Regions from separate parts of the Homo sapiens genome. Here region 1 is linked to region 2. Evidence: fine-mapped expression QTL. A gene starts in region 2. The other region holds a variant in brackets. All regions are shown on one strand. Distances are from middle to middle. Region 1 holds the start of GPBAR1 (G protein-coupled bile acid receptor 1). Region 2 holds the start of ARPC2 (actin related protein 2/3 complex subunit 2).

Region 1 (15,720 bases), 45 kb before region 2:
GGCACCTTTGGAAGCCACTTCCACGTCACTGCGGGCTCATCACCCTGGTGCCAGGACGAAAAGCTTCGCTGTTCTTCCTCAGACGACAGCATGGGAAGGACTGCAGTGGGACTCACATAAGACGTATGAAGGAAATCCGGGAAAAGGTTTTGAAACTGCAAATGTTAGCACTGGAAGGGACCTTAAAGATAGTCTACTCCATCCCTTGCACTGTACGGAAGAGGAAACTGAAGCCCTGAGAGAAAAACTGCTTTGCCCAAGGTCAAACTGCTAATTATCCGGGGCTGGAACTCAAACCTCCAGAAGCCCGGGGCTCTTTCCTCTGCACTGCGGTGAGTGTGAAACACCTGGAGCGCGGGAGTCCAACAGGCTTCCTAGGAGCTCCCTCTTGCAGCAAGACCCCGGAGGTGTCGAGCAACCCGAAGGCGGGGGGATGCACTGGGTGACCTCTAAAGAGCATCTCTGCACCCCCAGACTCTAAGATCTTGCAGAAAAGTGTGGGGAGGAACCAAGAGCCCTGACCTCCTGCTATCGTCGGGCTGGACGTGAAAGAAAAGGGATCTTCTGCAGTCCTGCCCTCCCCGGGGTCCCTCTCCTTACCCCGGAGGACGCGGGCATTTCTCGCCCCCCGGCCCTTCAGCGCCGTAGCAGCTACCACCGCCGCCATGTTCAGATCCCACCCCCGCTTCACCGCGCTCCCCGCCGGGAATTGTAGTTTGCGTAAGGGGCCTCCCCCGCTCCTTCCGTCCTGCCTACAGACCAGAAACTACATCTCCCAGAAGCCCGCAGAGCGGACCCAGGAGAACTACTCTTCCCAGGAGACCCCGGAGGCGCGCGCGCTCGCTTGTTTCCCTCCAGTTGGGGGCGGAGTCAGGTGGGGCGGAGTTTGGGTTCTCTCCGCCACGCCCCGGCCCCATCTTCCAATGCCGCTCTGTGATTGGTGAGGCGGCCAGCCAACCTTCGTAGCTATTGGCCGAACGGCCGTCGCTCTTCCTGCTGGGGAGTCGCCTACGCCTACTTCCTGCCGGGAGGAGGGGCTCGAGTTCCGCGTCGTCGCGCAGAGCTGACTCTGGGAGGCGTTTGGGCCCAGAGAAGTGGATCCGCCGCTTGCGCCGCATGGAGTCCGAATCGGAAAGCGGGGCTGCTGCTGACACCCCCCCACTGGAGACCCTAAGCTTCCATGGTGATGAAGAGATTATCGAGGTGGTAGAACTTGATCCCGGTCCGCCGGACCCAGGTGAGAACTGCCGCTCCTCAGGCCATGGGACAGGAGACGCTCACCCCTGGCCTCTGACTCCTGCTTTTCCCCGCTCCCCTCCACACCCGACTGGTCATTCCTACCGATATCCCTCTTCCCCTCCTCCCCCACTCCCACCCTCACACTTAGTTCTCAGGCCTGGCTGGGGTGGGGGTTCCCTGACGCCTCCTCTGGCCCTTCCCCTCACACACCCCCTTCCCATCATCCCCTTGGCCCTCCCTTACCGCACGGTCTCTGGCCAGCCGTGGCCTCCCGTCCTGTGTCCCGCGCGCCCCCGCGGACCCCGGTGTGTCTGACTCCACCTTCCCTTCTCGCCACATGACCCGCCCCAGCCTCAGGCCTCCTCATGCTTCTCTCCGTACCTCTTACCGCCTCCCGAGCCCCATCTTCTAACCCTCTCCCCAAAGCAGATGACCTGGCCCAGGAGATGGAAGATGTGGACTTTGAGGAAGAAGAGGAGGAAGAGGGCAACGAAGAGGGCTGGGTTCTAGAACCCCAGGAAGGGGTGGTCGGCAGCATGGAGGGCCCCGACGATAGCGAGGTCACCTTTGCATTGCACTCAGGTAGGTCTTTGAGGCGATCCACCTCAAATCAGTTTAGGTGGGCGTGTAAGCATTAAACATCAGCCATGGACAGAACGTTATGGGGGACACAGAGATGGGCAAGATGCTGGCCTTGCGCTGGAGGAGCCCACAGGTGGGAAAGTGTGGCAGAATGGATGATTGCTTGGCTTCTGGCATCAGTCGAGACACCCTCTACTTTGCCAGTTAACCTTGATTAACCTCTTAGTTTTCTTTTAAAAAGTTATCTTTGGCCGGGCGTGGTGGCTCACTCCTGAAATCCCAGCACTTTAGGAGGCTGAGGCAGGTGGATCACTTGAGGTCAGGAGTTCGAGACCAGCCTGGCCAACATGGCAAAACCCAGTCTCTACTAAAAATACAAAAATTTGGCTGGGCATGGTGGCTCACGCCTGTAATCCCAGCACTTTAGGAGGCCCAGGCAGGCGGATCACAAGGTCGGGAGTTCCAGACCAGCCTGGCCAATATGGTGAAACCCCGTCTCTACTAAAAATACAAAAATTAGCTGGGCGTGGTAGCGGGCGCCTGTAGTCCCAGCTCCTCGGGAGGTTGAGGCAGGAGAATTGCTTGAACCCGGGAGGCGGAGGTTGCAGTGGACCAAGACTGCGCCATTGCACTCCAGCCTGGGCAACAGAATGAGAGTCTGTCTCCAAAAAAAAAAAAAAAAAAAAAGTTATCTTTGATAAAAGTTAATAAAAGTAGTGAGTATAAAATTAGAGATAATTGGCCAGGTGCGGTGGCTCATGCCTGTAATCACAGCACTTTGGAAGGCCAAGGCGGGTGGATCACCTGAGGTCGGGAGTTCAAGACCAGCCTGGCCGACATGGTGAAACCTCATCTCTACTAAAAATAAAAAAAAAATTAGCTGGGTGTGGTGGCATGTGCCTGTAATCCCAGCTACTCCGGAGGCTGAGGAAGGAGAATCACTTGAACCTGGGAGGCAGAGGTTGCATTGAGCTGAGATTGTGCCACTGCGCTTCGGCCTGGGCGACAGAGCAAGATTCCATCTCAAAAAAATAAAATAAAATGAGAGATAATTATATCTTTTTGAGCATATTTTATATAACTTTCTCAAGTGCTAGTTCTTAGTAAGAAACTGTTGCCAGGCACGGTGGCTCATGCCTGTAATCCCAGCACTTTGGGAGGCCGAGGCGGGTGGATCAGAAGGTTAGGAGTTCGAGACCAGCCTGACCAACATGATGAAACCCCATCTCTACTAAAAATACAAAAATTAGCTGGTTGTGGTGGCGGGCGCCTGTAATCCCAGCTACTCAGGGGGCTGAGGCAGGAGAATTGCTTGAACCTGGGAGGTGGAGGTTGCAGTGAGCTGAGATTGTGCCACTGCACTCCAGCCTGGGCGACAGAGCAAGACTCTGTCTCAAAAAACAAAAAACAAAAAACAAAAAACCCTTAACGTGATGCTCTCCTCGCTCTGTACCCAACCCCGGTGGCATCCCATGCTGACAACTGTAAGCCCTGCACCTGTCCCCACCTCTTGTCCATGGCATTGGTGTTGGGTGGTGACGGGAGTCACACAGTGAGGGGATCTACTCTGGCAAATAGGGAGCTTGGCAAATATGGGAAGGATCTAACAACCCAATTCTTGAAACTTAGAAGAACTTGGATGTACCTGTGTTTTCCAGGAGGAAAGACACGCTTTGGGTGAAAGGGGGTGGGTTTCCTGAAGATTGTGAAGGACAGAGCCCTAGGTGGGAGCTCTGTCCCCTTACCCATGGAATATCTCTTGGGACAGCATCTGTGTTTTGTGTGAGCCTGGACCCCAAGACCAATACCTTGGCAGTGACCGGGGGTGAAGATGACAAAGCCTTCGTATGGCGGCTCAGCGATGGGGAGCTGCTCTTTGAGTGTGCAGGTGAGGGGGCTGGGGTAGAGGCCTGGGAGAGGTCATATTCTTTTGGGAGATCTTAGGAGGCTGACCTGCAGAGGTTGTGCATCCAACAGCCACTTAGTGACATCTCTTTTGTGCCAGCTCTGTGCTGGGCCCCAGGGACACGGGGCGAATACTAGTGTGTTTTGGGCACAGAGGCAGGAGGCACTAATTGGCCAAGGGAATCCAGGAAAGGCCAGAGAAGGCCACATTGGTATAGGAGCAGGCGGGCAGAGGTGTAGAGTGGACAGAAGGGGGAAGGCATAGGAGGCTGGGACTTGGTCTGGTTGAGTGAGGGCCAGCAGTGTCTCCCAGCAGACATGGGAGTATTGGTTCCTAGAGTGGTGGTGAGTTCCAGCACCTGTTCTGCTCAGTCCCGCCCCTCTTTTTTTCCTAGCTGGTCCTTTCAGTGGGCCAGATACCAGAATCACATGCCCCCAGCACCAGGTACCCTATTTTTTTCCTCTGTTTTCTGCCCACTTTTCTTTGAAGGCCATAAAGACTCTGTGACTTGTGCTGGTTTCAGCCATGACTCCACTCTAGTGGCCACAGGGGACATGAGTGGCCTCTTGAAAGTGTGGCAGGTGGACACTAAGGAGGAGGTCTGGTCCTTTGAAGCGGGAGACCTGGAGGTAAGATCATCAGAGCGGGAGTCAGCTCTGTGGGGCCTTGGGTTGTTGGGGGTGCAAGCTTGGGAGGCCAGTTCTGCCTTTATTGCGCCAAGCCAGCTCTGAGCCAATGCGCCCCAAGGCACAGGAAGAATATCTACCTGCTACCTGGAAAGTCCCCGCGGAACCCCAGAGGCAGGAAACCTTGGGTGGAGCTCATGGGGCAGGCTTCTAGGTGGGATGGGGTGACGGGCCTCCCTGCTGCCCCTTCCTCCCTGTCCAGTGGATGGAGTGGCATCCTCGGGCACCTGTCCTGTTGGCGGGCACAGCTGACGGCAACACCTGGATGTGGAAAGTCCCGAATGGTGACTGCAAGACCTTCCAGGGTCCCAACTGCCCAGCCACCTGTGGCCGAGTCCTCCCTGATGGTGAGAGCACCTCCCTTGAGTGACCTTTCCTGGGTGCAGAGGCCGAATCCCGGGATATACACCTCCCAGAGCAGCCTTCTGGGTCACAGCCGGCAAAATCTGAGGCCTGCTGTTTGCAGTGCTGACCTCCTGGGCCCCAAAGTTCACAGCGCCTCCTTCCTGCTCTGAACTCACCTGTGATTCCTGGGGCAGTGTCTGGGCCCTTCCACTCTTCTTTCCTCTCCCTCTCCCCATTCCCTTGCTTAGTGTATGTGAGCGTGCCCTCTGCCCTCTCTTCATCTGTGCCTCTCTTCAGGGAAGAGAGCTGTGGTAGGCTATGAAGATGGGACCATCAGGATTTGGGACCTGAAGCAGGGAAGCCCT[A/G]TCCATGTACTGAAAGGTATCAGAGGTGGGGGAAGTGTTAGCCTGGGCCTTTGTAGGGAGGGGCTGAGAACCTGGGGCAGGACTCAGAGGGGAGGTAGGACGAAGCCTGAGCTGCCTCCCTGCTCTATGCTAGGGACTGAGGGTCACCAGGGCCCACTCACCTGTGTTGCTGCCAACCAGGATGGCAGCTTGATCCTAACTGGCTCTGTGGACTGCCAGGCCAAGCTGGTCAGTGCCACCACCGGCAAGGTGAGTGGACCTGGAGCCCGGCTGGGGCCTCCGCTTTCCCGACTCCTCTCCTTCCTTCCTGGGTCTTCACTGTCTCCTCTCCCCACCGTCTTTCTCTCCATCAAGCACCCGGATTCCGTGTCCTCCTCTGATCCTCTCTGGCTTTCAGGTGGTGGGTGTTTTTAGACCTGAGACTGTGGCCTCCCAGCCCAGCCTGGGAGAAGGGGAGGAGAGTGAGTCCAACTCGGTGGAGTCCTTGGGCTTCTGCAGTGTGTGAGTGAGGATGGGGAAAGGGGTTTGTGGGAGGGGCCTGGGCTGGGGGCCCGGGAGGACGGCAGGGCGTGTGAGTCCAGGCCCTCATGAGTCTTCATGGTACGCTCCTCTGGCCAGGATGCCCCTGGCAGCTGTTGGCTACCTGGATGGGACCTTGGCCATCTATGACCTGGCTACGCAGACTCTTAGGCATCAGTGTCAGCACCAGGTATGGGCAGCTGGAGCTGGGGTCCCTGTGGGCTGTGTCCATAGTGGTGGGGAAGCCCAGGCCTCCAGGAGCATCTACCCCAGATCTGGCTCCTGCCTGGCCCTTGTGTGTGGCTGTCCCTCTTTGAGAATTGGGAGCAGATGGCTCTCAGCTCTCCTGCCAACCTCCGCCCTGCCTCTGTCATTCCTCGGGGCAGTCGGGCATCGTGCAGCTGCTGTGGGAGGCAGGCACTGCCGTGGTATATACCTGCAGCCTGGATGGCATCGTGCGCCTCTGGGACGCCCGGACCGGCCGCCTGCTTACTGACTACCGGGGCCACACGGCTGAGATCCTGGACTTTGCCCTCAGCAAGTAAGTGAATTGGCCAAGGGCTGGGATCTTTGTGTATTTGGAAGGTGGCAGTAGTATGTAGGGGACACAGGATCCTTGGGGTGTGGGAAGGGATTCCTAAGGCAGGAATGCAGAGAAGCCTGAGGGTTCACAGCCCAGCCCCCATTCCAGTGGCTGACAGTGACCCTCCGGGGCCCCACGTCTCAGTCATGAGGGAGAGGCTGAGACTGATTTTCCCCATCGGAGTCAGCTCTGCTTCTCCCGTGCTGGGGGCTTCCTCTAATCCCCTCCATGCTGGCTGCAGAGATGTCGGCCCAGTGCTAGGCACTAGGGCCCTAGAACTGAGGGTGTGCTGGAGGAGCCCACCCTAGGGCCCCTAGGTGGTGGGCTTGGGTCCCCCAGTCTCTGCAATCACATGCTTTCTGTTTACAGAGATGCCTCCCTGGTGGTGACCACGTCAGGAGACCACAAAGCGAAAGTATTTTGTGTCCAAAGGCCTGACCGTTAATGGCTGCAGCCCCTGCCTGTGTGTCTGGTGTTGAGGGGACGAAGGGACCCCTGCCCCTGTCTGCCAGCAGAGGCAGTAGGGCACAGAGGGAAGAGGAGGGTGGGGCCCTGGATGACTTTCCAGCCTCTTCAACTGACTTGCTCCCCTCTCCTTTTCTTCTCTTTAGAGACCCAGCCCAGGGCCCTCCCACCCTTGTCCAGACCTGGTGGGCCCTTCAGAGGGAGGGGTGGACCTGTTTCTCTTTCACTTTCATTTGCTGGTGTGAGCCATGGGGTGTGTATTTGTATGTGGGGAGTAGGTGTTTGAGGTTCCCGTTCTTTCCCTTCCCAAGTCTCTGGGGGTGGAAAGGAGGAAGAGATACTAGTTAAAGATTTTAAAAATGTAAATAAAATATACTTCCCAGAGACAGAGTCTGTGTGGATTTTGTGATGGCTGGACCCTAGGAGGAGCTAGCGAGGGCCCCGTCAGGGCAAGGCTGTCCCGCAGAATCGGCTGGATGTTGAGATGTGCCAGCTCCCCATCTCCAGGGGTGGTCTGTGCGCACGACACTTCTTGCCTGCCTGGAGTCGGACTCTGCCTTAATCCACGCGTATGTCTGTAGGTTCTTTCTATTGTTGGTGTGTTGAGCCATTTCCTCCTGCCTCGCCCTGAGATATGGAATGAGATAATCATAAACGGCCAGAGGAGCTTTATTCAGTCAGTGCGGGGTCAAACAGAGGCAGGGTCTCTGATCCAGAGAAGTGGGGCCCGGTAGAGACAGGCTGGATGGCTGAGCTGGACGGATGCTCTGGTAGGAGTCAGCAGAGGCCCTTCCTTTAGTTCAAGTCCAGGTCGACACTGCTTTGGCTGCTTGGGTGGTAGGCAATGCTGGGGCCGGGACTGTCCCGGGAGGCTCTTCCCCACAGCCCCTGCAGGCACCTTTGGGCGGCTGCCCTCCAGGGGGCTGTGTAGCGCTGATCGCCCAGCCCCATGGCTACGGGCACTGCCGCTGCACTGGCACTTCCTAGGGAGAGGAGGGACAACAGTGTCCCAGGCCCCAGTGGCGGGCGCTGCTCATAGGCCAGGACTGAGAGGAGCAGTGTGGCCACGTAGGGCCCCCAGCACAGCCCGAAGAGCAGCATGGCTCCAGCCTGTGCCCTTGCCTGCCTCCAGGTAAGGGCCCGGGCCAGGGCGGAGGGCTCATCGCGGCACACTGCCCGCTCCAGCCGGCAGATGTCCTGCAGCTGGCGGTGGGCAGTGGCCAGCACGCGGACAGAGAGGAAGGCAGCAGCACCCACGGCGGGCAGCAGGAGCCCATAGACTTCGAGGTACAGGTAGGGGGCTGGGAAGATAGCCTGGGAGCTGCAGTTGGCACCAGGGGTCCAGTGGTTCCACCCCAGAGCGGGCAGACTGGCAAAGAGCAGGGGACCAGCCCAGGTGAGGAGCAGGGCCAGCCGAATGCTCCCAGGGGGCTGGAGTGGCCTCAGGACTGCCATGTAGCGCTCCCCGTGCACCAGCAAGAGGTTGGCAAGCAGGGAGAGGAAGGAGAAGTTGGGAGCCAAGTAGACGAGGAGGCAGGACCAGTAACCCCGGCGACTCTGGTTCCACAGCCCTGGCAATGTGGGCAATGCCAGACCCGTGAGCAGCCCAGCCAGCAGTAGGCTCAGGAAGAAGCAGCCAGCAGGTGGGCTGCGCAGGCGGCGGTCCCAGGCGATGCCCAGGGCTAGGAGCAGGTTCGCGGTGATGATGAGGCTTGCCAGGGCCAGGGAGAGCCCCAAAGCCCCCTTGGGAATGGGGCTGGGCACCTCGCCAGTGCTGTTGGGCGTCATCTTGGTCCTGGGGACAGGGGAGTCCTGGAGCGGCAGCCGGCATGCCTGCAGGATGGGGTGGCCAGAGTTAGGATGGGGCTGCAGGTCGTGTCCTCCTGGCAGGGCAGCATGTTAATCCAGGGGCGCAGACCCGCAGGCTGTGGGCTGTATCATGTTCGCTGATACACAGAATTTTTCAATTAATTGCCAATTAAACATTTATATAAAAAACTATCTTTGGTTTCTATTGAAAATTCAGGTCTGGCAACACATATGTCCTGTGTGGTAGCAACCAGCCGGAGCTCACTGCTGGCTGCCCTTCGGACAGTCCCCACCCAGCCAGCTTTATCCATTTCTGGTATCTGCCTTTTCTGGGCAGCTGTGTTGAGGTCTCTTGTTTAGACTGAAAGGCGGGCCCATCCAGCCCCAAAGCATTTTGTGTATCCCTGCCTCCACCGGGGAGGCCTCTAAATGAGAGAATGGACCAGGGCTGGCTGGTGTGTAGTGGTCTTCCAGCCAGCCATTAGGTGACAGGCTCCAGCGGGCCAGGTCTCGGGCACCCTGCACCCTTCCCCCCATCTGTCCTTGTAGCCATCACAGCTCAGTGAGCAGCCTCCGGGTAGGACTTCCAGCCCATAAACTTGACTCGTCTTTGCTCCACACTAGCAACAGGGTCCTTCCTGGGAGCTGGAGGGAGGAGAGAAGCAGCTGGAGGGCACGTGTGGCAGTGAACGTGGAGATGCCAGCAGCAAGGAGAGGGACTCCCCCACACCCCCAGGCCTGAGGCTGAGCCCAGAGGAGAGGGAAGAGGAGTCTGGGCAGAGTCTGGCTTCTCTGTGGCTCTCATCTGTCCCTGTCCTTCCCGTCATTCCCTGGTCTCAGTCCTCCAGTGTCATGGCTCTGCTGCCACATCCTGGGGACAGGGGGAGGGGTCCTGGGTCCTGTGGGAACTCCTGCTTCTGTCAACAGGGGAGCAGCTGCTGTTGCTAGGATCCAAGTCAATAAGGAAAGGATTCATACCTCTCCCCTCCTCCAGGACAGGGGATCAGGGCCCCATGGCTGCCCTGAGCTGAGAGGAAGGAAGATGCTCCCCTTCCTTCCCAGGTTCCCCCAGCACCCTGAGCCTGGGCCTCCAAGGCCTTATGCCCCCTTTCCCCTCCCCTAAGCATGTTTTCTCTTTCTCAATCTCTTCCAGTGCCCTCCACCCAGGATGTCTTTTCCTCTCTAGAGGCCTTGCAGTTTCTGTTCCCTTTCCCAGGGCATCATCAACTCTCTTAAGTCCCGTGAGACTCAGGGTCCATTACCCCAAACCTGGCCTGAGCTGGAGCTCCCAGCCCTAATCGGAATGATTCCCCCCAACCCACCTCCACTAGAACAGCGACAAAGGCAGGGAGCAGCCCCCAGGGGTGATTTCCCAGCAGGGTGCAGGCTGTACCACCTGCACACCCCCGAGGGTCTGGTGGCTTGGGCTGGGTGTAGTAGCCTCTCCAGGATCTGGGGTTTGGGGGTTTGGGGGAGTAGCTACTCACATGGCTGTTGGGAGCAGGTATTGCCTGCCCAGCCTGGGCCTTCCTGAGTGTCAGGGAGTTGCTGCAGCCAGCCCTGCAGCGGTTTGGACCATGTCTGGTGTCCTGGCTGAAGAGCACAAGTGGACCAAGTGCATGGTGTCTCCACCCAGTGGGGACAGCGGGGCCAGGCTCTCCTACCCAGGCTCTGCCCGTCTGGGTTCTCAGAGGGATAGAGAAATGAGGCTGGCAGGACTCAGCCCTGGCCCCGCCTCTGGGAGGGTGGGACCTGACATATTCCAAACTGCAGCAACTGGGAGGCCTGCCTCCCCCTCCCACCCAGTTCCCCTCTCCCCCTGCCACCTAGGTGGCAGTTTCCCTACTCCAGCTCGGAGTAATCTGAGAAATGCATTCCAGTTAATGAATAATAATGATTGACTTACCCCTCCCGACTTCCCGCCTCAGCTGATGCATTTACATTTAAGCCCCTGGACTGGCCAGCCAGCTGACAGCACACCAGGCTCCCTCCACACTTCCGTGTGTGATGGTGGCAGTGGCAGGTGTTTGGGGCCTGAGGATCTTCACTCCCCCATCCCATCACCTGATGGGCCTTTCAGTTTCTAAGGCCAGACTTGCCTTCCTGAATCTGGGGTCATTCCACACTTTTCTCAACTGCTTTCTGAGTCAAGTTCTGAACTATGAGGGACAAATGGCTCTGGGGATGTGACCATGGGTAAGGTACTACTGGGCCTCGGTTTTTGCCTGTGTTAAAATGGGAACAAGAAAAACCACCTCTAATTAAGGTCGTGGTGGGGAATATCACAGGATAACACATATGGCGGCATATACCCCAGTGCATGGCCCTTGATGGGTGGGGGTTTGCCCCAACAAATGGCTCCCTCTCTTTCCTCCCCCATGATGAAGAGGCATGAGCTGGCGCTGGAATCAGAGCTGTCTGGATCCTTTTTTAAAAAAGCCAGTGAACTTGGGCAAATGACTAAAGTTCCCTTGCCTTAGTTTCCTCATCTGTCAAATGGGGCCCATAGTTGTACTCACCTATCGTGAGACTAAATGAAGTCCCGTGTGATGAGGACTCAGATCAACACTTGGCCCTTCAGCACTCCGCGACAGGCAGCGATCGCTGGGAACATTATTAGGATTTCTGCCTTTCTCTGCACCTGGCCCCTCTAAGACAGATCTGCTGAGAGGGGCGCATGGGGAGCTTGGGAAAAGCAAGAGGGGAGTGACACTCTTGCTGCACAGGGAAGCTGAGGAAACCAGATACATTGAGAGGGAAGGGCAAGTTCAAGGCTGGGAAGCCAGAAGTGGTGCTTTGATTTCCACCTTGTATCAAGTGCGGCTTTGGAGTGAGGGGGAGGAGAGAAGCCCAGCCACACTCCCTTAAGGCCTGAAATGGGAGGGAACAGGCGGAAATTGCAGCAGGAAAGCTGGGACTGGGGGTGAGACATTAGGAAACACTTGCTGGCTGAAGAGCGCAAGTAAATGGAGCAAAGGGACTCTGGTGCTCTCCGGGAGAGCTGGGCCTGAAGGGCTGGAAGCCCGTGGAGTGTGGCTGTGCCAGCTCTGCACAGCCAGTCAGGGATCCTGGAGATCAGGGACTTCTGTTGGGACAAAAAGTGGGAAGAGGAAAGCATCCAGCCTCAAGTCCATCCTCGAGGGAGCTGGTGGGTCGGAAGGACGCAGGGTTCCAGGGCCGGTCCTCAGAACCACGGGATCTGGTCGGGCAGAAGTCACAGGCTCTGGGAGAGTTCAGCCTGGGGCCTGGACAGAAGTGGGTGTGGGACCCTTCTGATATGTGACTTCCAGGAATAAACAGACCTCCTGTTCCCAGCCCCAGCCTGCTCCCTGTGGGATCCAGGATGTCTGTTTCTTCTCTGCTGCTCTGTCTAAACACTGTGTGTGGGATGTGTGTGAAGGGGGACAGATTAGGTAGTGGCAGCCAGGGAGCCTGGGCTGTCTCCTGCTCAGCCTCATTTCTCCCTTCCTAGATCATCTAGTTCCTGTCTGTTCCATCAAGCCCTGGGGCTGACTCACCCCCTAGCTTCTCCCTTCAGCCACGGAGGGCTCTGGTGCAAGCCGTCTTCAGACGCTCCATCCAGCTGACTGTGCCCGGACCCCATTCTCCTTTCCTCAGGCAGAGCCTGAATGGGGGTGACCAATTCAGACTCTGGCATGGAATCCTCCTGTGCCTCCTTTGTCCGCTTCCATTCTCTTAGCTATCTGAATTTCTCTCTGTTGACCCACAATGTCTGGGACTGGGTGAGTGTCATGCTGGCTGCGGGTACCAGCTCTGGACCAATGGAGGCAGCAGGGACGGGGTTTGCTGGACCCTGGTTGGCCTCCCTGAGCCGCTGTTCAACACTTCACACTCAATGCCTGTAATCCTAGCACTTTAAGAGGCTGAGGCCTGGGCAACGTGGTGAGACTCCGTCTCTACAAAAAATAAAGATTAGCTGGGCACAGTGGTACATGTTGTGTGGTTCCAGCTACTCAGGAGGCTGAGGTGTGAAGATTGCTCGAGTCCAGGAGGTTGAGGCTGCCGTGAGCCTTCATGGCGCCACTGCACTGCAGCCTGGGCGACAGAGTGAGACCCTGCCTCAAAATAAAGATGATTAAAAAAAATCAGAGCCAGGCGCGGTGGTTCATCCTTGTAATCCCAGCACTTTGGGAGGCCGAGGTGGACAGATCACCTGAAGTCAGGAGTTTGAGAGCAGTCTGGCCAACATGGTGAAACCCCATCTCTACTAAAAATACAAAAATTAGCCAGGTGTGGTGGTGAGCACCTGTAATCCTAGCTGCTCAGGAGGCTGAGGCAGGAGAATCGCTTGAATCCAGGAGGGGGAGGTTGCAGTGAGCCGAGATTGCGCCACTGCACAACAGAGCAAGTCTCCAATAATAAAAAAAAAAAATCGCCTAACCTTTTAATTCGCTCATCTGTTAAAAAAAAAAAAAAAAAAGGTTAGGGTGGGCTGGGCACAGTGGCTCACGCCTGTTTTCCCAGCACTTTGGGAGGCCAAGGTGGGTGGATCACCTGTCAGGAGTTCGAGACCAGCCTGGCCAATATGGAAAAACCCTGCCTCTACTAAAAATACAAAATTAGCTGGGTGTGGCGGTGCAGGCCTGTGGTCCCAGGTACTCCGGAGGCTGAGGCAGGAGAATTGCTTGAACCCGGGAAGCGGAGGTTGCAGTGAGCCAAGATCGCACCACTGCACTCCAGCCTGGGCGAAGAGTGAGACTCTGTCTCAAAACCAACCAACCAACCAACCAACCAACCAACCAACCAAAAACCAAAAAGAACCAACACCCCCCGCCCACTGAAATGGCAGTGCTTTTAGCAACCCCCAGTAGGGGGCAGCACTGCTTGAACTCAAAATCGCCACCAGAGTAGACCCAGGTTTCGGTCGAGCACTCATCAGTACTACTCCAAATGAGGGTAACCTAACGGCAACCAACTCCAAGTATCAGCTCCCCTCAAGGAGGCTGAGGCAGCAGCTAGGGCTATTTCCTTTTCTTGATTTCAATTCCCCCTCCAAGTCCACCCTTCCACTTCCTGTTAGAGTCTTAGCGTCTTTCCTGCCAAGCTCCTTATCCTTAGCTTGCAGTTTGCCCCAGGTTCCACTTTTTCCAGACATGGAGATTCTTACCTGCCTGGCCTCGGCAGTAAGGGCCATTTAAGCAGGGGAAAATACCAAAATACCAACTACCTTGGGGAAAGCCTGGGAAACCCCAAGCACCGAATAAGGGTTGGCTTCTGTGGGACTTTGCTGGGGCAACAGCCTGTCACTTCTGATCCCCTTGAGTGTATAAAGGGAACTAAGATTCATTGACATTATAATTACAGGCATCATAATGCTTATGATGTAACAGACATTTATTCTCTTTTCCTTTTACAAATCCTCAGGTAGGTGGCATTATGTCCAATTTAAATGAGGCTACCAGGGCTCAGATTAAGAAATTTGCTGTCACATAGCTATTAGATGGCGGCACCTGGATTCAAACTGTTCCTCTACAGCCCATATCCAAGGACGCCTACACTTACCAGGTGTGAACCCTTGGGGCACTGGCTTCCTGAGACTAGGAAGAAACAACTAGATCCCTTTTTTCCAGCCCACACCCTCAGTGTGCTTGACCCTCATCCTGAGACATTCCTCCTGCGGTCCTAAGGCCTCGACTGGTCACGATGGGCTGCTTCATCTGTGACGAGGGTCTTTGAGGCTAGATCCATACTAACGCCAAGTGTGTCCTTGTTAAGAGAAGAGTCAATCTGGATACGGGTTTACACCAGTATGGATTTTTCTTTTTTCTGGGACAGGGTCTCACTCTGTTGCCCAGGCTGGAGTGGAGTGGCACGACACAGCTCATTGCAGCCTTGACCTTCAGGGCTCAAGCAATCCTCCTGCCTCAGCCTCTTGAGTAGCTGGGACCACAGGCATGCACCACCACATCCAGCCGATTTTTATTTTTTGTAGAGGCAGGGTCTTGCCATGTTGTCCAGGCTGCACTACACATTTATTTATTTTTGAGACAGAGTTTCGCTCTTGTTGTCCAGGCTGGAGTGCAATGGCGTATCTTGGCTCACTGCAACCTCCGCCTCCTGGGTTCAAGTGATTCTCCTGCCTCCGCCTCCCGAGTAGCTGGGATTACAGGCACCCGCCACCATGCCCAGCTAATTTTTTTTTAGTAGAGATGGGGTTTCACCATGTTGGCCAGGCTGGTCTCAAACTCCTGACCTCAGGTGATCCACCCGCATTGGCCTCCCAAAGTGCTGGGATTACAGGCGTGAGCCACCGTGCCCAGCCAGATTTATTTTTATAGAGATGGAGAAGGAGTCTCACCGTTACCCAGGCTGGTCTCAAACTCCCGGGATCAAGCAATCCTCCTTCCTCATCCTCACAAAGTGCTACGATTACAGGTGTGAGCCACTGTGCTCAGCCTGCACTATGGATTTTTAATGTTGACAGTGTCTTGGAACTAGTTACTTCCTTAGGATTTACTGCTGTAGAAAATATTTATGCCTTTTCATTTTTCTCCTAACTCCATATCTTCTAAGCAACCTTGGTTCTGTCACCTACAGTACTTACCAGAAATCGGATTCCTACTACTGGCAAAAGAGTACAGTGAGCTCCAACATTAGTTATGTTCTACTAAGGAAGAAAGCAAAAACTCAGCTGGACATAGTGGCAGGTGCCTGTAGTTCCAGCTACTCCGGAGGTCAGGAGCTTGAGTACAGCCTCGGCAACACAGTGAGACCCTGTCTCTAAAAACTAAAATTAAAACAAAAAAAGAGCAAAAACTGCTTCTAGTCAAAATTACACTTGAAAACCCCTTAAATAACTCATGGGGTAGAGAATGCATATGTTGCTGTCAATATATCCAATTAATCTAGGTTTTCCAAGTACCAGAAGTAAGTGGTCAGGGGCACCCTGAGCAGCCAATTAGAAATCAGAGTACCTTGAGCTCTCTAGCAGCCCATTTTAGTGAAATAAAATCAAGTCTGATGACTGAACGACCTGTGGTTTTCAAAATTCTCCACTGTGACTCACAGTCAAGAGACATTTCTACAATCCAGTCATGATGTGCATATGTAACTAAAATACGTTTCCACATCAACACTTACCCTTAACAGATGTAATGCACTCTGATACTATTCAATTGCTTAAAAATGCTGGCGTCACACAAAGCTACACGTATGATAAAAATGCACAGATGTACATCTCATACAGTGCACGTAAATCCG
Region 2 (15,720 bases):
TGTTTGCCAGGCTGTTCTTTAACTCTTGACATCAGGTGATCCACCTGCCTCGGACTCCCAAAGTGCTGGGATTACAGGCATGTGCCACTGCACCCAGCCTATTTCCTATTTTTCATATTGTACCTTCTCTTCAGAGGGCTGAGATAAAGATGCTTACCTGCAAATGTTACTTCTACTGCTTCCGGTTTGTTTCTGTAAACAACAAAAAAGGTCCTCAGTTAAGATGACTGTATTGCTGCTTACCTTCAAAGGGAACTGGAAAGGCACCTGAGCTTCACTTAAGATCAGACCATTCTGTATAAATTTTAGGTTACTGCCAATCAGAGTACACAATTCATTTTCTCATGGACCTGAACCTTTGGACTTGCTTTAAGTAGAGGATAAAAAAGGAAGGTCAGATAAAAAAGGAAGGCCAGCTATAGCTTTTGTTTTTCACCTGCTGTTGAATCTACTGCTTTGGTTGGTGCTCACTTTCAATTCTGAATTTCCTAACAACATGCTATATACCACAAAATGCCATCTTTTGGTCAATGCCTTCCCCACAGGACAGTGGTATTAGGAGTAAAACGTTCAGCAGGAAAATGGCTAAGTATAATGTAGAATGGTTTTAATATGCTTAAAGAGAAAGGATGATTTCGGGCCATAAACAAAACGGCAAGTTCTATTCCACTTCAAAACCCGTCTGTAAGCCTTCCTACTCATCTTTCTTTCTTCCTTTACATCACCAAAGTACTTACCACTCACCTTCAAGAAACCCTCTTTAGTTCTACCCTAGTTTTGTCTTGCTTTGTAAATTCCAGCTCGGAACTTAAAATAGACAGTGTAACACAAAATAACACTATGAAATCACTAAGAATAGTCAGGACATCTGCTTTACAACTTTAGCTTTCTCATCACGCTCATGTTTTGGGACAAATACCCTTACACCTTTGCATTCTCCCCTATCATCAATAAAATGGGGGAATAAAAATGAACCTATTTACCTCATGGAACTACTACATATAACACAAGAACAGACCTGAAGTCCAAAGTAGGAAGCAAATGAAGACTATTGCCTTACCAGCTAGCTACCTGTAAACTCAATGATTCCACTTTGTTTTAGGGGCTAGCAAACAAGATGCGCATGTTTTCACATTTATTTTTGTCTAACTTGCTCAAGACCTCTTAATCAAGTACGTATCTTTCCACGATCTCTGCTCCATTACCTGCGAAAGAAACGAAGACTAAGTTGCTCTCCAGGGATGCTGGGAAATAATGGAATATATAACATGGTTTATGAGTGTTAAAAAGCTGATATAGAAGCCAGACAATACCTTTCAAAAAAACTGGCTTCTATGAAGCATGCTAGCCCTGCTGAAAAATCAACCTATACGAATCATACAAAGCTTCACCTTGCTTCTTCAAAGCCCTATATGTGACTTAGGAAAAGCGCACTGGGTATCTCTACGAATTGAAGTATCAAGTGGGTTTACGGAGAAGCAGAGAGTTCAGAATAGAAGGAAAAAACTAGATGAAAATTTAAATTGCTTCTGAGCCTTCATTTTGAAACTGTAGCCAGGAAACAAAGGCAACGAGTCCAATACCATTCCTCACCTCTAGAAAACAAGAGCAAAGAACAAAAATATGGAAATGTTAATCATGGACCAACTGAATGAAATATTAAGAGGATGACCAATGGGAGGAAGCATGGAAGCATACTTTCCTGGGGAAGGCTGACTGTGCTGAAGAGTCAGGGAGTTTATAAAAGCCCATTATTACATCACTTAGTAAGTTTTTTTTTAACCTTTAGGTTTTAATTCAGCCAAAGAAGGGCTGAGTTCCTCACTCTCCTACTTTGTCAAAAGACCTGAGAAAAACCAACTATAAATAAATAACCTTTGGGCTCCAAGTCATACACACTTTGAGTCTCTAATTTCAAATTTCTCTAGGCATAAAGTATCCTGAGCACAGATCCTTGTGGGAAAAGTTGCTACGATCGATCTTAAGTGGTCTGCTGTCTGACTTAGCAATATTTGTCAAATCACATTCATTAATATTTTAGTTTACTATTTATGGCTAGAAGAGAGAGAATGGCTGCTGAGGAGAGTATTAGGCCAAAGGAGACTTCATGGGAAGTCTTCTGGGAGTTAGAGGTCCGAGAACTCAGTGCCTTAACGATGAGTTTGCTGAGCGTGAAGTATACCATCACAAGATTGCTTCTCAATTCCAAGACCTGGCGTTTGTTATTTTACTTCTGTGGTTTAAAATTACAAAGGAGCGGGAGGAAGACTGGCCCAGGAAAAGTGTTCCACTAAATAGGCCCCCAGAATTAATAGTTACATTATTTACTGTTCTACCAGCTGCTAAAATTTCAGATGCTGGGGGTGAGAAAAAGCAAGTTATTTAGAATTCAGAATTTATTGGCTATGTGACCACAGGCAATGCTCCTCAAATGTCACCGGGCCTCAGGTTCCTCTTCTACAAAATGGGGACAAAACATCTACCTCCCAGGTTGGTGTGAAGACTGAGATGATATATGTCCAGCAGTACAGCAGTCTCCCCTTATCTGTGGGGGATATGTTCCAAGACACCCAGTGGATAAATAAAAGTGTGGATAGCACTGAACTGTAGCAAAGAAACACCAAGGTCACTTTTTTTACTTAAAGGAATCACTTCATGGGTTCTCTTTGGCATATCCAAATTGCCAGCATCATTACTCCTGTACTTTGGAGCCATTATTAAGTAAAATAAGGGTAACTTGAACACAAGCACTACAATGCTGTGACAGTCAATCTGATAACCTAGACAGCTATTAAGCGACTAACAGAGGGTAGCGTACACACTGTAGATATGCTAGACAAAAAGATGATTCATGTCCTGGGCGGGACAGCGCAAGATTTCATTATGCTACTCAGAATGGTGCACAATTTAAAATTAATGGATTGTTTATTTCTGGGATTTTCCATTTAATATTTTCAGACCATGGTTCACTGCTCACTGCAGGTAACTGAAACTGCAGAAAGCAAAACCACAGATAAGGGGGGACTACTGTACAGCAAAGTTTCTCAAACGGTGTCTTTTAAGTTATAGATATGCTGAGGTAATGATCCCCATATCCCTTAGGGCAGGCAGCAGGTGGCAGGATCTCTGAGAGGCTAGACCATTTACCCAAATGTGCCATACAAATACAATCATGTTCTGTGTGCCATACGATAAACAAGGTCAAGAATCACAGTGAAGGATGCCTGCACGGTGCTTACTTAATATGTAGTAGTTACTTATTCAATATCTACCCCCACCCCCAATCCTCAAGAGCCCTGGTTTTCTCAGTTGTAAATGAGATCCACTATCTGTCACAGAAATGAAATGAAACCATGTTAAGGCATATAGCACAGTGCCTAGCTCATAGAAGGTAATCAATAAATTAGTTCTTCTCCTAGGTGGAGTCAGAGATCGGACTCTGAAGCTGTGGTTGGGAGAGGTTTTAGGATTGCGGTAATTCCCTGAATCAGGAATTGGTTAGCAGTACAAGGAAAAACAGAACTCCTATAAGTGTCAGACTGCTGTAATGTCTGGAATCCTAGAACAAGCCGGCTGGGTAAGTCCTCAGAGTTACTGCCTGGACAACCCAAGACACTAAAACATAATCAATTCATTCAGACAGGTTTTAAGAGCTATTCTTAAAACCCTTTAGAAAAAATTTTCTTCTATCTTTTCTCTAAGGAAGCTTCTAGAATGTCAATAATCAATCCAGAAAGGGCTTCTGGCAACTGTATTATCTCATCTTCTTTTCTCATTAACAACTTTGGGGTTTTTACTCCTGAATGCACCCTAGGATCCAATTCCCCATTTTTTTCTTTTTTCTTGAGATGGGGTCTCGCTCTGTCACCCAGGCTGGAGTGCAGTGGTGCCACCTCTGCTCACTGCAACCTCCGCCTCCTGGGTTCAAGTGATTCTCCAGCCTCAGCTTCCTGAGTAGCTGGGATTACAGGTGTGCGCCACCACACCTGGCTAATTTTTGTATTTTTAGTAGACATATGTTTTGTCATGTTGGCCAGGCTGGTCTCAAACTCCTGACCTCAAGTGATCCGCCCTCCTTGGCCTCCCAAAGTGCTGGGATTACAGGCGTGAGCCAGGGTGCCTGGCCCCAATTCCCCATTTGGGCATTTATGTCTCTCTCCTACTTATCCCTTCTTATGTCCTGAATTAGAGGAATTACTGAATTCTGCTCACTATAAAGGTTTCTGAGCATTCTCCTTTAAATCTTCTATAAAGCTCCCATCATTCTTTTTGAGCAAAGCCTAAAAAAATAGATCATATTAGGTAAGAGGTGGTCCTATTCTCCACTAAGCCATATATCAAAATATGGAGAACAGAGACCTAAAAGCTGATTTACTCAATGTCACAAAAATGTCAGCTCCTAAAGAAACAAGGAATCATTCTATCTGGCTTCATTAATTTCTTCAATAAACCAATTTACTGAGTTGACTATATACACAATGAGGATGCTGGGGAAACAAAGATGATTAAAGTGATAGACCCAGCTCTTAAGGAGTTATCAGTTTGGTCCAGCACAGCTCTGGGGCTTCAGGACCAAAGTGGTCCCAAGTAGGCCACAGGACAGGTGGCAGTGTGTAATTAACTACAGTGACCTGTAAAAAGACCAACCAGGTCTTCTTACTGAGTTGGACACAACATTCCATTTCTTCTAAATGCTTAAACAATGTCCTAATTCCAAATCACTCCAAACAGCCTGTCTCTCTGAGGACATATGCAATATATTTGGGAATGAGAACAGAGTATCAGCAAGATTTAATTTATTCCTTTTTCAAATTTCTCTTCCCATCATCCTCGCCCACCCCAACTGGCACTGCTTGCTTACTGAGTTTCACTCCCCCCCATGGAACCACAGCTCCCCGCAATATACACTGGCTGTGGCACGGAGCCAGCACACACTTAAATCCAACAGCAATTTGCATCTGACAGAATTTCCTCAATTTTGGACTCCAGACTCCAGCTAAGTTGACAGGCCTAGCTTCTCAGTTATGAAACGGTTCTTGGTGTGTACACTAACGAAAGAATTAAATTAATTTGTCTGATTACTTTTGCTTTGAGGGTCTGGGTAAGAATTTCCAAATGAAAAGGCAATGCTGTTGATCAGACCTGTGCATGAGGTTATTTGCAGTGTTGGGCATAGCTTTTAAGTCAGTCACATTCTCTTAGTTTGTGGGCTGCTGGGAAGACAATTTACCAATAATTATTATTTTGTGACAATCTATGAGTTGTTTCAATAAGCCACTTCCCAGAAGTGTGTAGGAAAAAATTAAAAAGCAATCTGTTTGGAATGAACCTTAGGCTTTGTCAAACTGCCTCCAAATTAAAAGGTTATGATCAAATGTATTCTTAAACAGTTTAGATGACAACACTGCTTTACCCAAAAGAAAGCTGATACTTTTAGTAGGAGGCCACTGGTGAGAAGATCCAGCAGGATGATCTGAGAGGAATCATTAAAAAAAAAAAAAATCAACTTCAAATGGAAAATTAATGCAACTATATTCTGAAGTATATGCCACAGAACTATTTTTAAGACCATCTCATGCTTTCATTTTCAGAAGCTGGAACAGTGCTAATAGAACTTTGCAATAATGGAAATGTTCCATGTCTGTGCTAAATACAACAGCTACCAGCCACATGTGGCAAATGAGCACCAGAAATGTGGCTAGTGTGACCGAGGAACTCAATTTTATTTCAACTTAATTTTTACTTAAATTTAGCCAGCCACTTTGTATGGCTATCTTATTGGACATCACAGAGATGGAAGATGCACTCTGGAAAAGGCTGCTCCGAACTGTAATTTCCCCCATCGGTTTATTCTGAGAAGTGCAAAAAGTAGGGTGGAGCTGACCTCTCCTAGCAGGTTCCCACACCAGCAAAGCCTTTCAAATCTCCAGGGTTTCTCCTCCAAACTACTCCCTTTAATGTCTTTCTCTGATCTCCACCCCAACACCTTTCACCCCTTAGCACCTCCCTAACTTGGCTAATAGGCTCTCAGAGAGGCCCCTTTTTTTCTGTTGCTGCCTGGGCTGAGCACTGGTAGAATCCCATACATGTTTATGATAACCACACTAGGCAAACTCTGCTGTAAGTTCTGGAATAGGCATGCACCTTGCCTTACCTTACTGGAATGTCTGATAATTTACATTTGCTTCATTCGGGCTTCTACTGGGTGATACATCTGTAATCCCAGGAGAGCCCTGCCTACCAGGCACAATATCATGGTCTCTTTTTTTTTAAAGATTTTCAAAGTTTCAAATTTTCAGCAGAATGTTTTGAGCCTGCTTATTGAAAACCACATCTCAAAGGGGGAGATGGGCCAGAATAAAAGCCTAGATTTATACACACATACACCCGCACATGTGCACAAGCATACACACCAGTGCACCCCCTATACAGCTTCCCTACAATGCATATCTTTGTAAAAAATGTCCTGAGGAAAGGAGCAGTGCTGTAATCCCAGCACTTTGGGAGGCCGAGGCGGGCGGGTCACTTGAGGCCAGGAGTTTGAGACCAGCCTGGCCAACATGGTGAAACCCCATCTCTACTAAAAATACAAATATTAGCCAGGTGTGGTAGCACGTGCTTGTAATCCCAGCTACTTGGGAAGCCGAGACATGAGACTCACTTGAGCCTGGGAGGGCGAGGTTGCAGTGAGCAGAGATCGCGCCACTGCATTCCAGCCAGTGAGAGACTCTGTCTCGGAAAAAAAAAAAAAAGTCCTGGAAGTTCTAACTTATGTCTTCCAGACTTGAGGGCCTATTTAATCCCTCCGAAATGGTTAGCTTCTCTTTTTAAGAATAATTTTCTAAAAGAAAAAGAAAGAACTGAAGTTCCGAATAATGGGCCACATTTTGGAATCACAAGTCATTAATACACAAATAGATGAGAATGTACTCCTATGTTAAAAGACATGCCTCTACTTGAAAATACACAGCCATTTATCTTGTAGATCAGCTTATAACCGCCCAGGTCTCATTCTTTGCTAGTCTGGACCTGAGAATGCATTAAGATCAGTTATGAAAATGCAGAAGTTAATTCAACTTCCTCCTATGTGTTACACTGCTCAGAAAAAAGTATACAGCAATCACCCAAAATAAGACTCTGGGCTGATTCATTTGAATATTTAAAATGCAAAGAAACTGGTAAGAGAGGCTAAGACAAGAAAGAAGCAAGTCAGCCTCAAATATAACCAACTGCAGCCCCTGGCAGGAAACAGTACTGCTCACTACACGTATTACTTCAAGGAAAGTAGTGCTTTGTTTTACAGATAAAATCTGTGGCCTTATAAAGGAGACAGGACATACTATATATTCAATTTAAATGGCAGTTAATACTTTCTAATGCCTCCAAGCCACAAGTACATTATGACCACTTAAAAATTCCCCTCTACCAATCTTCTCCCATCTGTGGATCTGCAAGCACTTTCCTATTACTAGTTCCCAGTTCACCAGAAACGGTCTGCACTTATTAACTGTGAAACCCAGATGTGAAGCCCCATGCTCATACATAGGGAAATGAGGCAAAGGGACTGGCCACAGGCCACCAAAAATTAGAACCCAAAATCCTTAGCTCATGTTTTAAATATTATACTAGAAAAGCAAAGCAGCTTTGGAGGAGCAGATTGTCTTCTACTGATTCTTGTGTTTGGCAGAGAGGCTGCCTTGGAAAGATGCCCTAAGCCCATCTTTTAAAAAGTCCAATCGTAAAGACAGGTTATCTAAGAACTTTATAGATTCTGGAGTCTTTGAAGTGTGTAACTGGGCCAGGGCTACCACAGAAGAAATCACAGACCTAGGGTCTTGATGTAAGAATTTACAAGATAACCAGATAAAGGCTAGTGGGTGAGGAGAGAGCATTAGAACCTCAAAGGAGAGATAAGGAAGGGGTGTGGAGCGAGGGACAATTGGCTTTGCTTTAAAAATATGTAACAAAATGGCCCAGTGTCTCTCACAGAAGGGTTCGGGGAAGGGAAACCAGAGATCGCGTTTTTCCGGCTCTAAGACTGGGTCGGCTTTTAGTCTTCTCTTCTGCTCCTTTTAAAGGAGATGGGGGTGGGGAACGAGAATGCTGGTGGCGATGTGGGCCTGCATCTCCTTCCCTCCTCCAGTCCTGGGAATTCCTGAAAACTCCTTCCAACCCAATTCCAAACAGGCTCTCTCTGGGTTCAGAACAATGCCGGGGAATTTCACGCAGGGAAGGGGTCCCCTTCTCGCCCCAGAGGGCAGGGGGCTACTCCGGAGCGAGTTCCGGCTCCAGGGTCCCCCACGTCCCACAGGTCTCCTGCCCTTTGGCACGCACAGCCCTCACCACTCGCTGCTTCCGCATCCCTCCTCTGAGCCTCTCCCCACGCATCTCTGCCCCTCGCCCGGCCGCGCCCAATCGCCTCCCACGTCTACCCCGCTGGGGCAGCCCCTACACCCTGCCAGGCACCCCATTTCTCTCCTCCAGGTCTGGGGGACTGGACAACATTGGGGATTAGCTGGGGTCAACTCTGCTTCCCCCGCCACCCCCGGCCCCGGGCGCGCGCTCACCCGGCGGCCGCGTTCTCGAACTTGAGCGCGAGCGTCTCCTCGATGATGCGGTTGTTCACCTCCAGCAGGATCATGGCGGCGGCTGCCCCCAGGGGAAGGAGAAACAAGGGCCGGTGAGGGTGGGTAAGGGAGGCAAGGACGGAGGGAGCGGCCCTGCTGCCCCCTGAGTGGGGCTGGGTGGGGTAGGAGGTTAGGGGAGAAGGGGAGAGGGGCCGGGGTGGAGGGAAGGGTAAGACGAACGCGCTGGCCCACGCACGCAGACTGTGGAGACACCCACCCACCCAACCGACCTGGCCCCCGAAGCCTGAACCCGCCTGCCGAGCCGCCGCCGCCGCCGCCACTGCCGCTTCACCGACAAGCCCGGTCCCCGCCCAGCCCCCGGCTCTAGCCGGCCACTTCCGCTCTCACACCCACTTCCGCTCGCCGCCTGGACGCGCGGCCCCGCGGCGCCATTTCCGCTTCAACCACTCGTGAACGCGAGCGCAGGCGCGCCGGAGGAAACGGAGGCTGCGCTTGCGTATGTGTGATGCCGCCGCCCCACCGTCTACTTTCCCACCGACCCCGCTTACGTCTACCGCCTACCAGTGCGTCCCCCGCGGAGCTGTCATTCCCCGAGGCTTGCCTGACTGTTCAGCTTCTCTCTCCCGCTTGTCCCAGAGATCCAACTCCATTCTTCCGGTCTTGTCATTTCAGAAACCTCGCAAGAAGCTCGCCCTTGTCGTCTCCCAGCGGGCTTCTTAGCTCCCAGCTTGTTTGATGGGGGTGCCTCTTTTTCTTTCCAGGTATAGCTGTCCAGCGACACCATCATGCATTCATTTCTCCAACAAACATTTTCATGGGCTCTTGCTCTATACTGGGGATGTAGTGGTAAATGAAATGGACGAGGCCCTGCCCTCGTGGAACTTACAGTCTGGCAAAGGAAACAGACAATAAAATTCTCAGTTGTCTAAGGAGGCAGAGATGCATGGGGAGAGGATCAGAGTAGGGATGCGGAAGCAGCGAGTGGTCAGGAGTGTGCGTGCCAAAAGGCAGGAGACCTGTGGGACGTGGGGGCAGCTGGGGCCGGAACTTGCGCTGGAGGAACACCCCTTGCCTGCTGGGGCGAGAAGAGGACCCTTTCCTTGGGTGAAATTCCCCATATTGTTAAAAGGACAATTAAAGAAATGAAAGAGAGGTCACCTGGGTGAATAGGCAACTTAGATGGGCCTCCCTGTGTTCCTGTCATGCCTCCAATTCTGCGTCCAGGTGTCCGGAACACATTTTTTTCTGCCTTTGAAACCTTCCAGTACCTCTGGCAGAGATATACCATACCCTCCTTGTTACCTGCGTGCGGAATCTTAACTCATCGTTGTGCTACATCTGCACCTTCTGCCTTTGTGCCTTGTTTTGTGTTTTCCCTCCTCCGGGGAGAATATAATAAACTTAGCTGAGTCCGTTCTACATACAAGGAAATAATTTATTTTCTGCTATGTGTTTGGGGATGGGGATAAAAAAATGAACAAGAAACTAGCTCCTATCATTAAGGCACAGATAGCCCTTTGAAACATTACTTAACGGGCTATGGATAAGCTTCAGGATATTGCTGATCCCCTAAAATTATACGCTAACTTAAATTTTTTTTTTTTTGAGACAGAGTCTTGCACTCTTGCCCAGGCTGGAGTGCAATGGCATGATCTCGGCTCACTGCAACCTCTGCCTCCCCGGTTCAAGCGATTCTCCTGCCTCAGCCTCCCAAATAGCTGGGATTAAAGGTGCCTGCCACCATGCCCTTTTAATGTTTTGTATTTTTAGTAGAGACGGGGTTTCACTATGTTGGTCAGGCTGGTCTCGAACTCCTGACATCATGATCCTCCTGCCTCGACCTCCCAAAGTGCTGGGATTACAGGCGTGAGCCACCATGCCCGGCCTTTTTTTTTTTTTTTTTTTAATTTGAGATGGTGTCTCACTCTTGTCACCCAAGCTGGAGTGACGTTGCTATCTCTGCTCACTGCCCGCCTCCCGAGCTCAGGTGATCCTCCTGCCTCGGCCTGCCAAATAGCTGGGACTATAGACATGCACCACCAAGCTGGGCTAATTTCTGTATATTTTGTAGAGACGGGGTTTGGCCGTATTGGGCACGCTGGTCTCAAACTCCTGGGTTCAAGTGATCCACCTGCCTTAGCCTCCTAAAGTGCTGGGATTACAGGCGTGAGCCACCATGCCCGACCGATAAGCTAGCTTTGTAACATTAATGACTATTGAACTAAAATAATGTTTATAAATTGTTTAAAATATGTATGCTTATAATACTAAAAGGCTTGTAATGAAAAAAGCAGTTCCCTGTCCTACTCTTTGGAGGCAATATGCTCAACTCTTTCACAAATTCATCCTGATATTTACCTTCATAATCCCTTTCTTTCTTTCTTTCTTTCTTTCTTTCTTTCTTTCTTTCTTTCTTTCTCTCTCTGTCTTTTTCTTTCTTTCTTTCTTTCTGATAGGGTTTCACTTTGTTACTTAGGCTGGTGTGCAGTGGCACACTCTTGGCTCACTGAAGCCCCGATTTCCCTGGGCCCAAGCAATCCTCCGGCCTCAGACCCCAACTAGCTGGGACTACAGGTGGCCACCAATATGTCCAGCTAATTTTTGTATTTTTAGTAGAGACAGGGTTTCACCGTGTTGCTTCGGCTGGCCTCGAACCCCTGAACTCAAGCGATCCGCCTGCCTTAGCCTCCTAAAGTGCTAGGATTACAAGTGTGAGTCACCGTGCCCGGCCTACCTTCATGTTTCTAAGTAAATGTTTATACCATTATTTTTTGGTTTGTGAATTTTTAGCATTATGTGTTGACTTCCTGACACGGTAGATAAGAACTTGACTCTATCACTTCTGCTTCCCACCATATATAGCTGCGTAATAACTTTTGGTAAAACCAATAATCTGCACCTAGCTGTATTAAAATTATTATGTATGCAAATATTGTTTACTGATGAGCCAAGAAATGCACTATAATCATGACTTCTAGTTTACATGGCCCTTCATTTTTCTTAGGGTTAATTATTGCCTTTTTTCTCTCATCTGTCTGATTTTCTGTAAACAGTATTTACAGTTGGTTTTTCCCCTCAAATGCTCTAAGACTATCAAAAAGTCTAGCAATAATGTTTTCCATATACTCAATATATAAGTTCCACTTTTTCTTTGGAGTTTTTGTCCCAGAGCCTTCCTTCCTCTTATTTCAATCTGGACTGGCTGCTCGCTAGACTTGCTGTACAGTTGTCATTCTGGAATTTTCCTTCATTGTTGTTCTGGGGTGGTTTTGCCCATTTCCTGGATCCCATGTCTTCCTCTTGGTTTACTTCCTTGTTTTGCTAAAGCATCTCCTCTAATAACTTCCTAAGAAAGGGAGATGGGGGATATATGTTGTTAGAATCTTTGCATATTTGAAAATATGTTACTTCTATTTAACACTTGATGTGTTGTTGGGCTAGATATTCAAGTTTGAAAATAATTTTCCCTTTTTTTTTGAAGGTATACTACATTTTCTTTTTTATTTATTTATTTTTTTATTATTATTATACTTTAAGATTTAGGGTACATGTGCACAATGTGCAGGTTAGTTACATATGTATACATATGCCATGCTGGTGTGCTGCACCCATTAACTCGTCATTTAGCATTAGGTATATCTCCTAATGCTATCCCTCCCCCCTCCCCCCACCCCACAACAGTCCCCAGAGTGTGATGTTCCCCTTCCTGTGTCCATGTGTTCTCACTGTTCAATTCCCATCTATGAGTGAGAACATGCAGTGTTTGTTCTTTTGTCCTTGTGATAGTTTACTGAGAATGATGATTTCCAATTTCATCCATGTCCCTACAAAGGACACGAACTCATCATTTTTTATGGCTGCATAGTATTCCATGGTATATATGTGCCACATTTTCTTAATCCAGTCTATCATTGTTGGACATTTGGGTTGGTTCCAAGTCTTTGCTATTGTGAATAGTGCCGCGATAAACATGTGTGCATGTGTCTTTATAGCAGCATGATTTATAGTCCTTTGGGTATATACCCAGTAATGGGATGGCTGGGTCAAGTGGTATTTCTAGTTCTAGATCCCTGAGGAATCGCCACACTGACTTCCACAATGGTTGGACTAGTTTATAGTCCCACCAACAGCGTAAAAGTGTTCCTATTTCTCCACGTCCTCTCTAGCACCTGTTGTTTCCTGACTTTTTAATGATGGTATACTACATTTTCTTACACCTTCTAGGGTTGCTATTAAAAAAGTATAATTCCTATTCATGTTTCTGATCCTTTTGTCTGTTACATCTCCCCCATCTGTGGAAGCCTTAGGATTCTCTCTTTAACTTGTTGGTTAGAAATTTTAGAATGATTTGCTTTATTGTACCACTTTCTTAATTTGTTGTACTGAGCACTGATTCAAAATAGAAATTCATAGAGCTGAGCATGGTGGCTCATGCCTGTAATCCCAGTACTTTGGGAGGATAAGCAGGGAAGATTGCTTGAGCCCAGGAGTTTTAGGCTGCAGTGAGCTAGGATCATGACACTGCACTCTAGCCTTTACGACAGAGTCTTAAAGAAAAAACACAAAAAAAGAACCTTCTTTTCATCTTGCAAAACTGAACTCTAAACCAACCCATTGTTTGTTTTTTGTTTTTCTATTTTTGTGGAATATCTTCTTGCATTATCTTCAGCCATTTTAACTTTTTGTTTTGTTTTGTTTTGTTTTTGACACAGGGTATCGCTCTGTTGCCCAGGCTAGAGTGCAGTGGGCAACCTCAGCTCACTGCAGCCTCAACCTCCTGGGCTCAAGCGAACCTCCCACCTCAGCCTCCCAAGTAGCTGGGACCACAGGCTTGTGCCACCACATCTGGCTAATTTTTTGTAGAGATGAGGTCTTCCTATGTTGCCCAAGGCTGAACTTTCAGTTTTCTTTTTTTTCTTTCTTTCTTTTTTTTTTTTTTTGAGATGGAGTTTCGCTCCTGTTGCCCAGGCTGGAGTGCAATGGCGCGATCTCGGCTCACCGCAACCTCCGCCTCCCAGGTTCAAGCAATTCTCCTGCCTCAGCCTCCCGAATAGCTGGGATTATAGGCATGCATCACCATGCCCGGCTAATTTTTGTATTTTTAGTAGAGATGGGGTTTCTCCATGTTGAGGCTGGTCTCGAACTCCTGACCTCAGGTGATCCGCCCTCCTCGGCCTCCCAGAGTGCTGGGATTACAGGCATGAGCCACCGCGCCCGGCCTCAGTTTTCTTATTTTTAATTCCCAAGACCTTTTTTTCCTGCTGACTGTCTCTTTTCCATAATATTCTATCCTGGTTTTATGGACAGGCATAAGTTTTCCTGTCTGTGAGGATATTAGTGAATTTGTTTTTAGTTTTCCTTCTCTCCACTTTGTCTCTGTTTCCTTGGGTCCTTTTTAATGCTAATTTATTTTGGTTACTCTCATGCTAATGGCCATCTCAAACTTCTGTCTACTTTAGCAATCTATTCATATTTAAGGATGAGACACTAAAAAGCTGAGTGGAGACTCTAAGTGTTTGGGCAAGATGAGTTGACTAGCTCCTTGGACCAGCAGCATTGACATCATCTGGGAGCTCATTGGAAATGGAGAACCCCAGGTTCCACTGTAACCTACAGATTTAGAATCTGCATTTTAACAATATCACCAGGTGATTCAAGTGCACATTACGTTTTGAGAAGCACTAGGTTGACCGTAAGTTGCACAGATGATGTGCCAGATGTCGAATGTCAATATTGGGAGGTCTTCTCTCCAGGGAAGAATCCTCCAGTTGTGTTTGGAAAGTGGCTGTTCTTAAATAGCCAGAAATTTGCTGCATTCAATCTTGAAGATAGAGGCTAGAGGTAATTTTGGGGTTGGAATGGCTGTCTGGCCATTCTCCAGTTAGTCCTCCAGATCCACTCTTCATCCTTTTTCACCCCTATATCAACTGGACTCCCTTATGCCTGGGTGTTTGGTTGGCCAATAAGGAGCCCCAGCAGGAGGAAGGGGAACAGAAGTAGTAGTAGTAGGAGGAGGAGGCAAAAGAGTAATATCAGGCTATTTAATCTTGGGCTTCCTTCATCTTTTGAGGTCGCCTCAGGCTGGCTGTGTTCATCAACCAAATGTCACTGCCCCTTTCAAGGTGGCCACCTCAGCACAACTCTTTCCTTCCTTCCTGGTCCTGATCCCTCTCCTCAACCCTTTGGGCTTAGGGATAGTATCAGCTTGGCTGCTATTAGTCCTGGGTTAATGCATTCCCTCTTCTGGCTCCCCTACATCCACACTTTTGTAAATAATCCTTCTTAAATACATTCTTCTCAAATTATCCTATCTTGAGGGTGCCTTCTGTTTCCTATGGGATAAAGACTAATGTGGTGGGGTGGGGGAAGAGTGATGTCATGGAAGATAGCAGAGTAGAATTGATCCCTTCACTGAAACCACTATTGAGCTGGCAAGAACTGTCAGAACCAACTATTTGGAGCTCCAGACTCTAGTGAAGCACTTGCAGCATTGAAGGGAGTACTTGATTAAGAAAGAGGCTGGTGAATTTTGGTGAATTCTTCCCAGCAGCATCCAGTTGTGGAGATGGCAGTCTGTATCCCTGATGTGCTTGGCGATGTGAGGGTGGGCTATAGGGACCTTGTCCTCCAAAAATCAGGCTTGTGTATTTTGATATGCCTTAGTTTGCTAAGGGGCCACTGCTAAGGTTGGTTATTGTTTCAGCCTCCATGGGCTCAGCTGAAATGGTTTTCTTATTGGTGGAGGGGATTTAAAAAGCTCTTTTTTTTTCTTTTCTTTTTTCTTTCTTTTTTTTTGTTAAAGATGAGGTCTTGGCCGGGCACGGTGGCTTACACCTATAATCCCAGCACTTTGGGAGGCTGAGGCGGGCAGATCGCTTGATGTCAGGGGTTCGAGACCAGCCTGGTCAACATGGTGAAACCCTGTCTCTACTAAAAATGAAAAAAATTAGCCAGGCTTGGTTATGTGCCTGTAATCCCAGCTACTCGGGAGGCTGAGGCTAGGGGAATTGCTTGAACCTGGAAGGTGGAGGGTGCAGTGAGCCAAGATCATGCCACTGTGCTCCAGCCTGGGTGACAGAGCGAGACTCTTATCTCAAAAAGAAAAAAAAAAAGATGAAGTCTTGCTATGTTG

Evidence for each region.
Region 1: its variant is fine-mapped to the expression of ARPC2 in whole blood (TOPMed, PIP above 0.99).

What each region holds. Positions count from the first base shown.
Region 1 is chr2:218,255,483-218,271,202 of GRCh38, reverse strand. GPBAR1 (G protein-coupled bile acid receptor 1) reads right to left here and starts at 10,188. Exons shown (of 2, transcript NM_170699.3): 1 at 9,987-10,188; 2 at 7,342-8,523. The coding sequence starts at 8,478. The coding sequence ends at 7,486. AAMP (angio associated migratory cell protein) reads left to right here and starts at 1,066. Exons shown (of 11, transcript NM_001087.5): 1 at 1,066-1,237; 2 at 1,669-1,821; 3 at 3,590-3,709; 4 at 4,217-4,356; 5 at 4,616-4,760; 6 at 5,056-5,139; 7 at 5,257-5,372; 8 at 5,521-5,624; 9 at 5,742-5,832; 10 at 6,029-6,183; 11 at 6,595-7,074. The coding sequence starts at 1,117. The coding sequence ends at 6,670. PNKD (PNKD metallo-beta-lactamase domain containing) reads right to left here and starts at 684. Exons shown (of 10, transcript NM_015488.5): 1 at 601-684. The coding sequence starts at 667. RefSeq lists enhancers at 390-439, 470-849, 1,888-2,773, 6,833-7,012, 8,936-9,741 and 1 more. The variant A/G (reference allele first, on the strand shown) is at 5,124.
Region 2 is chr2:218,210,392-218,226,111 of GRCh38, reverse strand. It overlaps ARPC2 (actin related protein 2/3 complex subunit 2), which reads right to left and starts at 8,923. Exons shown (of 11, transcript NM_152862.3): 1 at 8,858-8,923; 2 at 8,568-8,649; 3 at 158-192. The coding sequence starts at 8,641. It overlaps LOC101928487 (a long non-coding RNA gene), which reads left to right and starts at 8,926. Exons shown (of 2, transcript XR_923908.2): 1 at 8,926-9,084; 2 at 9,261-10,011. RefSeq lists silencers at 3,243-3,292, 8,740-8,789 and an enhancer at 8,311-8,914.